2 linked regions of the Homo sapiens genome follow. The protein of the gene in region 1 purifies or fractionates together with the protein of each later gene. This does not show direct contact. Each region holds a gene or a part of one and is shown on either strand. Other genes may lie near its edges.

The links. The genes of interacting proteins can lie anywhere in the genome.
Region 2: the proteins of TCP11L2 (region 1) and LMO7 purify together in Homo sapiens (affinity purification with mass spectrometry; one large-scale study listed by BioGRID and IntAct). This does not show direct contact.

Annotation. Positions count from the first base shown.
Region 1 is NC_000012.12:106,309,233-106,312,732, reverse strand, and holds part of TCP11L2 (T-complex protein 11-like protein 2), read right to left. Parts: intron 1,693-3,500; 5' UTR 1,658-1,692; coding exon 1,501-1,657; intron 441-1,500; exon of another isoform or gene 299-440; intron 1-298. UniProt on the Homo sapiens protein: Promotes the migration of muscle-derived satellite cells (MDSCs) during differentiation throught interaction with FMNL2 and therefore may participate in microfilament assembly.
Region 2 is NC_000013.11:75,639,330-75,642,829, forward strand, and holds part of LMO7 (LIM domain only protein 7), read left to right. Parts: intron 1-3,500.

The DNA.
Region 1 (3,500 bases):
TTTTTGTATTTTTAGTAGAGATGGGGTTTCACCATGTTGGCCAGGTGGTCTTGAACTCCTGACCTCAGGTGATTTGCCTGCCTCAGCCTCTCAAAGTGCTGGGATTACAGGTGTGAGCCACTGCGCCTGGCTACCTAATTTTTAGGAGAAGATGAGGAGGAGGATCAGGGAAAGAGGAGGAAGAAGAGAAAGGTGATACACAGAATTGGTAAAACCCTTCTTCAGGATGCCTAGGTACCCTGGTGTCAGATGCAACAACACCACATACAGTATAAAGAGTGAGAAAAGGCACAGAAACCTGGGGTGGCTGCTGTTAATTTCTTTTGCCAGGTCTGACTCAAGATTCTCCTTAAAAATGTCTATATACTTTGGTCCAATAATCCAGTGATATCCAAAAGTCTTTCCAGAAAGGCTTCATGCAGTAAGATGTTCATAAAGCACTATTTATAACAGCAAAAAAAAAAAAAAAAAAAAATGGAAACTAAATGTCCAGTGATTAATCAATGGTTAATTTTACCGTACATTCACTTGGTAAAGTAATAAGTATTCATAAAACCAATGTTTCAAAAACATGTAATCATGAGTAAATGTTTTAGTTATAATACTAAGCAAGAAGAGTCCACACACATATACACACATATGTCTATGTGAAGGATAAAGATACGGCAAAGCACTGCCAGCTGTCGTCTTTGAGTGATATCATAGGCAATGTTTTCTTTTCTCTATTCTTATGTATCTTCTAAGTTTTAAAAAATGAGAATGTAAAAATTTAAAATACAAATGAAGCAATTTGTAAGAAGTGGACAGTTCAGCATATTAAACATTAGTTGCTTTTTCCTGCATTTGCTTTGCCAGTTAAAGCTGTTATATTTACTAAATAAAGTGCCAATTAAAAAAAAAAAGGCAAACACATCTGCTTTACCCATCTCTAGTTTCTACATGCAAAAACGGGAAAAAGATATCTCCTTTTGCTGTGGCCTCTCTTTTAACTCTTTCTCACACCCCTAATGTAGTAATTCTCCTTGTGGGTACCTTCCTGGGGTGATTTGCACAATATTTTTTTGAAATCAACATGAAACCCTTTAGATTATTTCACTTCCTTCCTGACCTTTCAATGAAGGCCAGTTTCCTTCAATGTAAATCAGGAATAATCAGAAAAGACCAATTTGAATTTATCCTTCAGTGGAGATCTAAGAAGTAATCTCAAGGAATGGCTTTCTGCTGTTTGGGAGAAAAGACAGATGGGGTTGAAGTCCTGACTTATCATCAGACCGAAACAGATCGGAAGCAGTGATCAAAATAAAAATCAGCAGGTTGTAAACTTTAGTGGCTATTTCTGAGAATGTGTCCCGGAAAGCTGCAGTGCCTCTGCAGTGCTATTCTGGTGCATCTAGAAAGGAGGGGAAGTCTGTTGCTCTCAGGCGTTTCTGAGTTTTCAAATCCAACACATATCTAGAAGTACCCCTGCCACCCACAACCCCTGCTCCCCCATCGGCTCACAAGCAGGAGAGCTGGATTTGCTGGAGGAGTCACTTGCAAAGCTCTGCCTGGAGCATTCATAGTCACTGAGCGAAGCCATGCTTTCGGAAAACCGGGAAGAATCAGAATCGCTTGGCTGGTCCTCTCCCACACACTGCTTCTCGCCATTGAAGGGCATTTTGCGTCACTTAAGTGTGGGTAAAAAGGTAGCACCTGCACAGACAAACAGACCCTGCGTCAATGTTCTGTGGTACTTCCACAGGCACCACCAATGCTTCTTCCAGTGTAGACAACTGTCCCCACAAGTGTCACTGTGTTGGAAAGGCCCCCAGATGACCTCATCCTTCCCCCAGCACCTTGGCCGGACTAGGCCAGATCACTAGGTCATCGAGATTGCCTTTCTGAAAAGGGATTCCACAGCCATAGGTGTGAGCTTACTCAGGACACACCCACTATAAATGTGAAGCTCTAAGTAATGGCAGGTCCTTTTTAAAAAGATGCAGGACACATGCTCTCTCCTCCTGGGTTGCTGAAACATGAGAAGGCGGGAGTGTGGGACTTGGGTCAGATCTCTCGTTCTGTTCTGCCTTTTGCCATGAGACCTTGGGAAGGTCACTTAACTACCTACCTCATAGTGAAACTGGACTGAAAGACTAACCTCTCATTGGGTTGCCAGAAGATTGAATAGAATTCATCTTAAAGAGCTTGGCACAGTACTCAAATGTTAGCTGCTATTATTGCTCCTATTGCTTTGTTTCAGATAAAATAGCTGTGAAATCAGCCTCTTTACGCTTTCTGTGAACCTCCTGGGGAAAGGGGAAGACCGCATGAAACCTCTGGCTGGCAAGTCTTTAGCTTCTTCCCCCTCCATTTCCACATGAACTGCTGTGATATGAAGATTAAGACCTGATATATGGTTAGGATTTGACAATTTACAAAGTACCCATCACAACCCTATGAGTGCACAAGCATGTAGGATCCTGACTCACAAGTGGGGGAACAGACTCAGAGGGATAAGGGGATTTACTACATGATAAAACCAGTCCCTTGGTGTCTATGTCCAGTGTTTCTGGGACATGAGAATCCTTCCAGGGAAGGGCCGTCAGGTTTGGACACTACCCAGAAAGCAGATCACAGGCACACAGGATGACCAGGCCTTGGTCCCAGGAGCACCAGCCAGGCCCGTGAGGGAGCTGACCTTGATGTGAATATGGTATCACCTGACACTGAAGGGGAAACCCGGGCTCAAGGAGAAAGGCACCTCAAATCCTGGATGGACAATAATGAGAGGAAGAGTTCACTGAATCCTTTTAAACCTAAACCAGCCCATGCAATGAGGGATGCAGTGCTTTTAAAGCGGCCAGAATGGGAAACCACAACTATGTATAGTATGTCTGAAAATGCCTGCAGTTTCTTCAATGATTCCATTAATATTCAACAAGTGCCTACTTGAGCACTGAGCACCGGGGAAAGTAACCAAACAAAGACAATGCCCTATTCTTGTGGTTCTCAAGTCCAGCTACCTAAAACTGTGTACTGAATGCTACTAGATGGGAAAAGGGGGAATAAGGCATTGTTGAGAAAACACAAGAAAGGAGAGGCAGGCTCAGGATTAGCAGAGCGGGAGAAGGGGCACTAGCCTTTGTTGAGAGAAAAAGAGTAATTTTTTTAATTCCTTGGATGGTGATGGGGACAAGGATGAGTCTGAGAGGGATCTAATAAGGGTGAAAGGTCTAAGGTCATTTGCGCCTTGCCTCACCTAAACAACCGTCTTCAATCCTGCCACAGAAATGTATCCTTGCTGAGCCCACCACTTTTGCAAGCAGAAAACCACTAGAGTCCACTTGTGCAGGCTGAAGGGCAAGGAGTGGAGTGGAGACACTCACCTTATCCCAGAATCCCAAAGCCATGAACACTGGCTATAAGATTCTTGAGCCCTTGCATCCTCAGTGGTGAAACAGCCTCCTCTAACTCATGAAGACTAAATTCTACCTGAGCTTAAACTCCAATCTGCTCAGGGG
Region 2 (3,500 bases), on another chromosome or scaffold:
GGTGTGTCTACTCATGCTAATTTTGCAATTCAAAGCAAATGTAGGAAAGCTACCCTTTAAGATCGCTCAACATAATGATATTGGATTATTACATAGTTGGAAAGGCTGTTTGATACATTAATAATGTAGCAGGGCTGGTTTATGATTAAACACTGGTTTAAAACCAAGTAATGGTTTCAAGGCAAAGGCAGAGGAGAAGCTTGATTCTAGCAAGGCTACGCAGTGGCTGATGAAGTGGTGGAAAATACAGCCTGGACTCTAATTTTAGGCCTCTTCTGCAGTACCTTTTAATTTTCTATGCCTAATAGTTGCCTTTGTCTCTCTGTTGTGGGTCATCCGAAAGCCATGTGGTAAACAGACAAAATACTAATGAGATTGAAACTGGGGTATGTAGCACTTTGCATTGGTTGGTCAGTTTTTTAGTCTGTAAGTTAATGTTGCTCTCTAGATTGAGGTTCAAATACAATAGTAATTTTTATGGCTGGAGCAGAACAGGCTAACTTAATTCACCACCTTTCTGCTCACCTGCCCTTCCTGTTATCTCTGGATTGGATTTTTTCAGTATTGCTGTCACCCTGTAAGGGATGCCAACCTGAGCTCATTGCCAAGTCTGGCACTAGAATATGAGTCCTTCCTCACTTCTAATTGGTCTGTTTCTCCACCTGCCCCAAGTTTTATCCTTCGGGGATGTGCTGTTCACCACCTTTTAACTTTTTTGCCTTTGGTGCTAATGGAAGTATTTTTAGTAATTATATATAATTTCAATCAACAGATATTAAGACACTATGGTAAATATTTGTTAAAAATTGTAGTGTTACAAAGCAATTCTTATGCTAGCTGCAGCAGCTAGCATAAGAATTGCTTTGTAATACAATTTTTAACAAAGATTTACCATAGTGATTACAGGTGTGAGCCACCGCACCTGGCCTGGGCTCTGCTATTTAAATCCTGTAGGTCTCAGTTTTTTCCTCTTAATCTCCCCTGGTAGTTGTACCAGTTAAATGGATGCTGATGGTAGAGCAACAAATGCTCCCTAATCCATTGCTTGTGTTTCTCCTTGCACAGAATGCAGTTTTGTCACCTCCATGTTTTCGTATGAATGGAATACTTGTTATTCCTTGTAACCTAGTGAACACCTCTTCATTCTTCCATACTTGAGCTAAAATCAACCTTTATGTGAAGCCTTCCCAAAATCGCCAAACCTCCAGCCCCACCCATTCCTTTCTCTCCTGTCTTACATAAATCTCTCTTTTTGCATTGTGTGGTTCTATTCGTTTTTCTATATTAGTCTATGAGCTAACTGAGGGCAGGAATCGTATCTTATTTATTGCTTGAGTGTTTGGCATGGTGCCTGCTAAATGCTTGTTGAATAAAAGTACAAATAAAGTTATAGCTTTAACAACATTAAAAAATAGGATTTTAAGGACCAGAACTCATTTCTTCTTCCAGCAGAAACTTGCTTCAGTGTCTTAAGCTTTATTGGTTGCAGTTGTTTGGTTGGAACCTGCTACAGGATGTGTCTTCATCTGCATGCCAGTGTGTACTTGTTTATTTACTTAGCATTTCCTCTTCTGCCTCAACCCTCTTCCCGAGTCACCTTACTCTACTGCCGTCCACTTGATGATTTCCCTCATGGGGACTTACATTTAGTCATCTCAAAAATACCTACTATGTGCCTACTGTGTGCCAGAAACTTGACGGGTTTATAGATTCAGTCACCAAATTCTTAGCCCTTACCTGGACCTTCAAAGAGAGGCAGCCTCCATGAAAAGCAGATGTGCAGACAAACCCAGCAGTGCCATCAGGTACTGAAGTTCATCCGGTGCATCGTGATGGCATTGAGGAGGCAGCCTGAGTCCACCTGGTCAGTCAGGGCAAGCACACAGAGAAGGCAGCATTTGAGCCGAGGCTGCAGTGGGGTTAACCCATCTGCCCACTAGGCTGGAACATTTTGGCCTTTTTTAACTTGTCGTGTGTGAAATCTTGAAGTTGCAGACAGCATAGCTTCCAGAAGTTGCTCAGAGTAATTTATTCTTACTGAAGTACCTTACTGAGGTAACGTTTTACCTGCAGTGAAATGCACTGATTTTAAGTATACCATTGTAGGAGTTTTGTCAGACCTATATGCCCAAGTCACCAGAACCCAATCAAGATACAGAATGCTTTTTATCACTCAAGAGAGTTCCTTCCAGAGAGCACATTAATCTCCATTTCTTTGGTAAGCATCCACTCTTTGATTTCTAGTACTATGGATTTCTCAAGGTAGGTTTGAATGGCCAAGAAATGTCTTAATGCCTATTTGTTTCTTTTTTCCTCTCACTTTTTCTTTTACTTTTGTTTTCTGAGACAGGAACTCACTCTGTTGCCCAGGCTGGAGTGCAGTGCTGTGATCTTGGCTCACTGCAACCTTCGCCTCCTGGATTTAAGTGATTCTCCTGTCTCAGCCTCCCGAGTAGCTGGGAGTGTACCACCATGCCTGGCTAACTTTTGTATTTCTTTTTTTTTTTTTTGGTAGAGACAGGGTTTCACTGTATTGCTCAGGCTGGTCTCAAACTCCTGGCCTCAAGTGATCTGCCAGCCTTGGCCTCCTAAAGTGCTGGGATTACAGGGCGTGAGCCACCACACCCGGCCCCATTTTTTTCTTTATGCAGTGTTTTATAATTTCTTGAACACAGCATCTTTATATGGGAAATAAGAAAGGATCCTAGAAAAGAGAGGGGTGGCAAGAGATGAGGGAATTAATGAAGTCCTCTTGGGAAGGAACTGATTTACACAAATAGGAACCAGGGCAGGAATGCCGTTAGAATAGCCTGACTCCAGGAAGTGTAAACAGATATGTCAAAGTATTTCCTGAGGAACTGGGAGGGTTCCAGTGCAGTGTCAATCATTCTGGATTCTTCCAACGTACTGATGCACTGAAAGCTAGAAATGGACTTCTTTCATAAAGTGAGGAAAAATACAAAGAACTTGTACCTTTAGTAAAACAGGGTGTCAGCCAGACATGGTGGCTCATGCCTGTAATCCCAGCACTTTGGGAGGCTAAGGAGGGAGGATGGCTTGAGGCCAGGAATTTAAGACCAGCCTAGTCAACATAGCAAGACCCCATCTCTACCAAAAAAAAAAAAAAAAAAAAAAAGGTGGCACACACCTGCATTCTTGGCTGCTTGGGAGGCTGAGGTGGGAGGATCGCCTGAGTCTGGGCAGTTGAGGTTGTGGTGAGCCGTAACTGTGCCACTGCACTCCAGCCTGGGTGACAGAGTAAGACTCTATCTTTAAAAAGTAAATAAATAAATAAATAAATAGAGTATTCTTGAACCAGTTAGAGAAGTGGACCCACTGGGTGAAAAAAACGGTTCTTGATACACATTATAAAGATACCCTCTAAAACCTTTGTGGCAGTTTGCAGAATGAGCAGGGGTTGAGGGCACCATTTTCTCCACATTCTGGCCCAAATTAGAAATTGTTATTTGTATTTTCCCTCTAAATGAACAGATGAAAGA